Linked DNA regions of Homo sapiens. The protein of the gene in region 2 purifies or fractionates together with the protein of the main gene of each other region. This does not show direct contact. Each region holds a gene or a part of one and is shown on either strand. Other genes may lie near its edges. The genes, in order: NUP88 and DDX19A.

Region 1 (3,818 bases), on a different chromosome or scaffold from region 2:
ACTGTAGCGTGCTGCTGACTGTAATCTCAAAAGTTACACGTTACACTGAAGATCTCTCCAACTTGCACATAAGCCCCAGCTATCTTTGTTTGCCTAGCCCAGTGCTAACAAATTAAGTGCTTAGAAACTGTTGAATGAACAGAACTACCGAGTCTCTCTCAATGAGGCCCAATGTCAATGTCACAGGAAATCACTTGGCACGCACAGCGTGTATCTCTCTCAGTCTTCCTTCCCACTTCAGTGAAGACACTGGAAACTGAGACCTCAGATGGGAACTGTCATTCTGCCAACATGCTCTCCTAGCGGCTCCCATGCCCATCCCACCTGCATGCCTACAACACACATCTGCCCCCGAATGTGGATGCCGCCTCCTCTCACACCTTCTGAAAATTGTACCATCAACTGTGTCGTTTCAAAATCTCCCTATTATCTACTTCCCCTCAGCTTGCAAACTCATGTCTCTTCCATTTAAAATACTCTCATTTCAATATAATGTCCAGTTCCCCTTAACCTATTCTTTCTCGCCATCCCTTTAGAACCAGCAGTCTTTAAACAGCAGTTGAAAACACTAGTTCCCCTTCCATAGCTCCCATTTACCTTTTTGGACAAGACATGGAGACGATATCTGGAAGGTTGTAAACTTTAACTTTTTATTATCAGTGTGAAATCTACACACTACTGGGCTATACACTATGTAACCAGTATCCAGGTCAAGAATCAGGACACTGCAGGGGGCCTCAGGGTTCCCATGCGACCTTCCCTGGTCATAGCCTTTCACTCCCCAGAGAAGTAGCCGCTACTCTGACATTCATAATATCATGTCTTTGCTTTGCTTTATAGTTTTCCTATCTATGTATTCACTCCTAGGCAAGACTGTTTAATTTTACCTGTTTCTGAAATTGATATAAATGGGATTTTGGGGTTTTTTTGAGATAGGGTCTCACTCTGTTGCCGAGGCTGGAGTGCAATAGTGCGATCACGACTCACTGCAGCCTTGACCTCGTGGGCTCAAACAATCCTTCCTTCTCAGCCTCCTGAGTAGCTGGGACCACAGGTACATGCTACCACAGTGGCTAATTTTTTTTTTTGTTTGAGACGGAGTCTCACTCTGTTGCCCAGGCTGGAGTGCAGTGACATGATCTTGGCTCACTGCAGCCTCCACCTCCCAGGGTCATACGATTCTCCTGCCTCAGCCTCCTGAGTAGCTGGGATTACAGGTGCCCGCCACTACACCCAGCTAATTTTTTTTTTGTATTTTAGTAGAGACGGGGTTTCACCACGTTGGCCAGGCTGGTCTCGAACTCCTGACCTAGTAATTCGCCTGCCTCAGCCTCCCAAAGTGCTGGGATTACAGGCGTGAGCCACCACGCCTGGCCTCACCTAGCTAATTTTTAAATTTTTTTGTAAAGGGTCTCACTATGTTGCCCAGGCTGGTCTCAAACTCCTGGCCTCAAGTGATCCTCCTGCCTCACCTGACAAAGTGCTGGGATTATAGGTGTAAGCCACCATGCCCAGCCTACATGGGATTTTATTATGTATTTTCCTTGTTCACTTTTCTTTTTTTTTTTTTTTTTTTGAGATGGAGTCTCACTCTGTCACCCAGACTGGAGTGCAGTGGCATGATCTCAGCTCACTGCAACCTGTGCTGCCCGGGTTCAAGCAATTCTCCTGCCTCAGCCTCCCGAGTAGCTGGGATTGCAGGTGTCTGCCACCATGCCTGGCTAATTTTTGTAGTTTTTAGCAGAGATGGGGTTTCACCATCTTGGCCAGGCTGGTCTTGCACTCCTGACCGTGTGATCCACCCACCTCGATCTCCCAAAATGCTGGGATTATAGGCGTAAGCCACAGTGCCTGGTTTCACTGTTCACTTTTCAAGCTGGTACAGTTTGCTATCCTTCTCATTCCCCACCAAGCGTTTTCCCTGTGGTCCTCTGTATTGCCAAACCTAGATTATGTCTATTTCTTAGTGTATGCTATTTGTCTCATGTCTGTGTATACTCCATGTCTAACAGAGTGCTTATGAGATATCTAGTAATTGATGAACAGAATAAAGGGAGGTATCTAGAATACCTTCCAGGTTTCTACTGGGGATAACTGGGGTGATATGGCACCCTTCAGAAAAATGGGACACAGGAGAGAGAGCAGATTTGGAAAGACAGAAGATGAGTTAAGGGGACATCTGGAGTTTTATGTTCCTATAGGATATCCAAGTGGAGGAGCCCAGTAGGCAGCTGGGTATGTGAATCTGGAGTTCAGAGTGGTCTGGGCTAGGGCGATATGGATGCGGGAACTGTCAGCACTGAAGCCATGATTACGGCAGAAGTTACTCAGGAAAGGACCTAGAAAGAATAGAGAAGACCCAAGGAAAGAGTTGTGAGCATTACTTATAAGCAGTGAGTAGAGGCAGAGGAACCCGCCCAAGAAGGAAACTTGAGAAAAGGGCTGCTGGCGGGACTGAAGGAGAACCTGGAGGGACAGACGTCAAGGATGCCAAGGAGAATGTGTTTCAAAGAGGAGACATGGGCAACCACATCAAATAAACACAGCAATGCAGTGAAGGGCAGACACAGTCTCTGCTCTCATGAAACATATACATTCCGGTAGTGGCGACAGACATTAAAAAAATGCAAATATAAATAGTGTAATATGTGCTACAATGGATAAGAGAATAGGAGAGCCCCAAGTTAGACTGGGGAGTCAAGGGTGTTCTCTGTGAAGAAGTGACATTAAGATCAGAAAGAAGGGTAGGAGTTAGCCAAGAGAAGACAGCAAGCTGGGGCTGGGGCTGGGGCTGGGGAAGGACCTTCCAGTCAGGAAACAGTATGTCGAGTGGCCCTGGAGAGGAGAAAGCTTCTGATGAGCAGGACACTCTTAGGGGAGAAGTATCACGTCTGCAACTTTCAAATGACTCAGCAGTGAATACTGTGGATGTGAGTGTAACGGATACAAACGTATCTGAACTGCTGAAATGAACAATTGTTTTCTGATATACAAGGGAGGGAGAGTCCTTACCTGCAGGGCAATGGCTTCGTACAAAGGATGTGTTCAACAAAGCATTTCTGTTCTGTAGAGAGTTCCTGTAAACTATCCTTATCTTCTTCATCTACCATGGAAGACATTACATAAATGAAATGATGCTTAGACAAGTCTCCAAATTAAAATGCTAATGATATTGGGTTAAATGCAGTGAGGTTCTTGTCTGAAAACATTGCTTCTCAAGTACTATGCTTTTCTGACATAGGCATACGCTTTCCCAGGGGGTCTAGATTTCCGCCCCAAGAAGTAGGATTTTCCTTCGTAATGTCTCTGAATGCAAAAATGTTTCACTAAGAACAGTGAAATCATTCTCTTCTAGGGTGCTGCTTACCCACACTGATTTTATTTTCATAAAGGTTGAGTATCCTTTATCCAAAATGCTTGGGATCAGAAGTGTTTTGGATTTCACATTTTTTTTTTGGATTTTGGAATATGTGCATTATACTTAGTAGTTGAACATCTCTTATCTGAAAATCTAAAATCCTAAATGCTCCAATGAGCATTTCTGTTGTCATGACAGCACTCAAAAACTTTTGTAGCTCACTCAGGTTCAAGGATGGAAAAAAGAAAAGTTTTGGATTTCAAATTTTTCAGAGTAGGGATACTCAATTTATAACAGCTTTATTTTTTTTTGGATGGAGTCTCCCTCTGTTGCCCAGGCTGGAGCGCAGTGGCCCAATCTCTGCTCAATGCAACCTCCGGCTTCTGGGTTTAAGTGATTCTCCTGCGTCAGCCTCCTGAGTAGCTGGGACTACAGGTGGACGCCACCACGCCCAGGTTTT
Region 2 (3,818 bases):
AACTCATATTTGTAAGAAAAATAAAAAATTCAACAAGATGGCCGGGTACGGTGGCTCATGCCTGTAATCCCAGCATTTTGGGAGGCCGAGATGGGTGGATCACGAGGTCAGGAGATCGAGACCATCCTGACTAACACGGTGAAACCCCATCTCTACTAAAAGTACAAAAAATTAGCGCGGCGTGGTGGCGGGCGCTTGTAATCCCAGCTACTCGGGAGGCTGAGGCAGGAGAATGGTGTGAACCCGGGAGGCAGAGCTTGCAGTGAGCCGAGATCACACCACGGCACTCCAGCCTGGCAACAGAGAGAGACTCCGTCTCAAAAAAAAAAAAAGTTCAACAAGATAGTCATAACATTCACACACATAGTTTTCCAGTCTCAAACAACAAATACTTAGAAAATGGAAGCATAGATCTCATTGATAATAGAAAAAATAAATATTTAAGATCTCTGAAGAAAATGTCAAAATGATTTTAGAATAAAAGAGACACCGGAGCACGGTGGCTCATGCCTGTAATCCCAGCACTTTGGCAGGCCGAGACAGGCGGATCACCTGAGGTCGGGAGTTGGAGACCAGCCTGACCAACATGGAGAAACCTCGTCTCTACTAAAAATACAAAATTAACTGGGTGTGGTGGTGCATGCCTGTAATCCCAGCTACTCGGGAGGCTGAGGCAACAGAATCACTTGAAGCTGGGAGGCGGAGATTGCAGTGAGCTGAGATCGTGCCCCTGCACTCCAGCCTGGGTGAGAGAGCGAGACTCCGTCTCAAAAAAAAAAAAAAAGAGGCCAGGCTTAGTGGCTCACGCCTGTAATCCCAACACCTTTGGAGGCCAAGGTAGAAGGATTGCTTCAGCCCAGGAGTTTGAGACCAGCCTGGGCAACGTCGGGAGACCCCATTTCTAAAACACTTAAAAAAAATTAGCTGGATGTGGTGGCACACACCTGTAGTCTCAGCTACTCGGAAGACTGAGGTGGGAGGATCCCTTGAGCCCAGGAGTTAGAGGCTGCAGTCAGCTGTGATCACGCCACTGCACTTAGCATGGGTCATAAAGCAACACTCTGTCTCAAAACAAGGAAACATACAATGCAATGATACAGTGATAACAGTAATATATCTCTCAAATATAATCCACGTTCTCCTATCTCCACTTGTGCCAAAAGTATTCTTTTTTTTTTTGAGACCGAGTCTATCTAGCTCTGTCACCCAGGCTGGAGTGCAATGGTGTGATCTAGGCTCACTGCAACCTCCGCCTCCTGGGTTCAAGCAATTCTCCTGCCCCAGCCTCCAGAGTAGCTGGGATTACCAGCGCCCGCCATCATGCCCAGCTAATTTTTGTATTTTTGGTACAGGGGGTTTCACCATGTTGCCCAGGCTTGTCTTGAACTGCTGACCACAGGTGATCCAACTGCCATGGCCTCCCAAAGTACTGGGATTACAGGCATGAGCCACTGCGCCTGACGCCAAAAAATACTCTTTTTTTTTTTTTTTAGACGGTCTCACTATCTTGCCCAGGCTGGACTCAAACTCCTGGGCTCAAGCAATTCTCCTACCTCAACCTCCCAAGTAGGTGGGACTCCAGGCACATGGCACTGTGCCCAGCTCATCTTTATTGCTTTTTGTTTTGTTAAATCCAAGAGCCAGTCAAGTTTTGCTTGTTGCATTTAGTTGTCATGTCTCTTAAGACTCCTAAATCTAGAAGAATTTCCTCACCTTTATTTTATTGCCTCTCATTACAATGACATCTTGAAGCATCCAGGGTAGTCTTTTCTTTTTGAGATGTAGTTTTGCTTTTGTTGCCCAGGCTGGAGTGCAGTGGTGCAATCTCGGTTCACCACAACCTCTGCCTCCCGGGTTCTAGCAATTCTCCTGCCTCAGCCTTCCCGGGTAGCTGGGATTACAGGCATGTGCCACCACACCTGGCTAATTTTGTATTTTTAGTAGAGACAGGGTTTCTCCATATTAGTCAGGCTAGTCTCAAACTTCTGACCTCAGGTGATCCGCCCGCCTCGGCCTCCCAAAGTGCTGGGATTACAGGCGTGAACCACCGTGCCCGGCCAATCTGGTTTTTTTTTTTTTTTTTTTTTTTTTGAAACGGAATCTCGCCTCTTGCCCAGGCTGGAGTGCAATGGCATGATCTTGGCTCACTGCAGCCTCTGCCTCCCGGGTTCAAGCGATTCTCCTCCCTCGGCTTCCTGAGTAGCTGAGATTACATGCACATGCCACCACGCCCAGCTAATTTTTGTATTTTTAGCAGAGACGGGGTTTCACCATGTTGGTCAGGCTTGTGTTGAACTCCTGACCTCGCGATCGGCCCACCTCGGCCTCCCGAAGTGCTGGGATTACAGGCATGAGCCACCGCGCCTGGCCCCCAGGGTAGTCTTTTACTCCTAGGCTCAAGTGATCCTTCACTTGATCTCCCAAATTGCTGTGGTTATAGGCGTGAGCCACCGTATCTTGCCCCAGGTTAAATATTTTTGTGGTATAAATTTTCTTTTTTTTTTCTTTTCTTCTTTTTTTTTTTTTTTGGAGACAAGGTCTTGCTCCGTCACCCAGGCTGGAGTGCAATGGTGCAATCTTGGCTCACCAGCCTCGACCTCTCAGGTTTAAGCGATTCTCCTGCCTCAGCTCCCTCAAGTAGCTGGGACTTACAGGCCTACACCACCATGCCTAGCTAAATTTTTTGTAGAGACAGGTTTGGCCATGTTCCCCAGGCTGGTCTCGAACTCCTGAGTTCAAGCGATCCACGTGCCTCGTCCTCCCAAAGTGCTAGGAGTACAGGTGTGAGCCACCATGCCCAGCCAGGTACAAATATTTTCGTAAGATTACAAGCCAGGTGACATTGTTACTTCCTGTTGCACTATATCGGGTTTACAATTTTAAGAAATTTAGCTTTTAGCTGCTAAGTTTCAGGTACAGTCTTCCAGATCAAAAATATCTTCAGCTGAGCGTGGTGCCTCACACCTGTACTCCCAGCCCTTTGGGAAGCCAAGGCAGGATAATGACTTGAGCCCAGGACTTTTTAGATCACCCTGAGTGACAGCAAGACTGTGTCTCAAAAAGAAAAAATATATACTCAAATACTTTCATTTCTCAATTGTTTTTTTTCTTCCAGACTCGCAAAACAGCTAGTTGGCTGGCAGCAGAGCTCTCAAAAGAAGGCCACCAGGTGGCTCTGCTGAGTGGGGAGATGATGGTGGAGCAGAGGGCTGCGGTGATTGAGCGCTTCCGAGAGGGCAAAGAGAAGGTTTTGGTGACCACCAACGTGTGTGCCCGCGGTGAGCAGAGGACGTGTCCCACCTGGTCTGCCAGGCTCGGGGTCCCAGGCCCAATTAGAGCCAGAAATCCTTGTATACAGGGAAGTCGGATGGTCTCAGGGAGATGGGTGGGGTTGGTGACACTATTCCTTTCTAGGAGAGACTGTTTGGATTTCCCTGAGGTGGTAAGAACTCACACATGCCAGGTGCGGTGGCTCATGCCTGCAATCCCAAGGCAGGAAAATTGCTTGAACCCTGGAGACAGAGGTTGCAGTGAGCCGAGAATGTGCTATAGCACTCCATCCTGGGTGACAGAGTGAGACTCTGTCTCCAAAAAAAAAAAGGAAGAGGGCAGGCCCAGTGGCTCACGCCTGTAATCCCAGCACTTTGGGAGGCCGAGGTGGGCGAATCACCTGAGGTCAGGAATTCGAGACCAGCCTGACCAATATGGTGAAACCCCATCTCTACTAAAAATACAAAAATTAGCCGGGCGTGGTGGCATGCGCCTGTAATCCCAGCTACTCAGGAGGCTGAGACAGGAGAATCGCTTGAACCCGGGAG

What was found.
Region 1: the proteins of DDX19A (region 2) and NUP88 purify together in Homo sapiens (affinity purification with mass spectrometry; 3 studies listed by BioGRID and IntAct, with this or other methods). This does not show direct contact.

The regions. Positions count from the first base shown.
Region 1 is NC_000017.11:5,391,879-5,395,696, forward strand, and holds part of NUP88 (nuclear pore complex protein Nup88), read right to left. Parts: intron 3,104-3,818; coding exon 3,013-3,103; intron 1-3,012. UniProt on the Homo sapiens protein: Component of nuclear pore complex.
Region 2 is NC_000016.10:70,367,108-70,370,925, forward strand, and holds part of DDX19A (ATP-dependent RNA helicase DDX19A), read left to right. Parts: intron 1-3,115; coding exon 3,116-3,278; intron 3,279-3,818. UniProt on the Homo sapiens protein: ATP-dependent RNA helicase involved in mRNA export from the nucleus.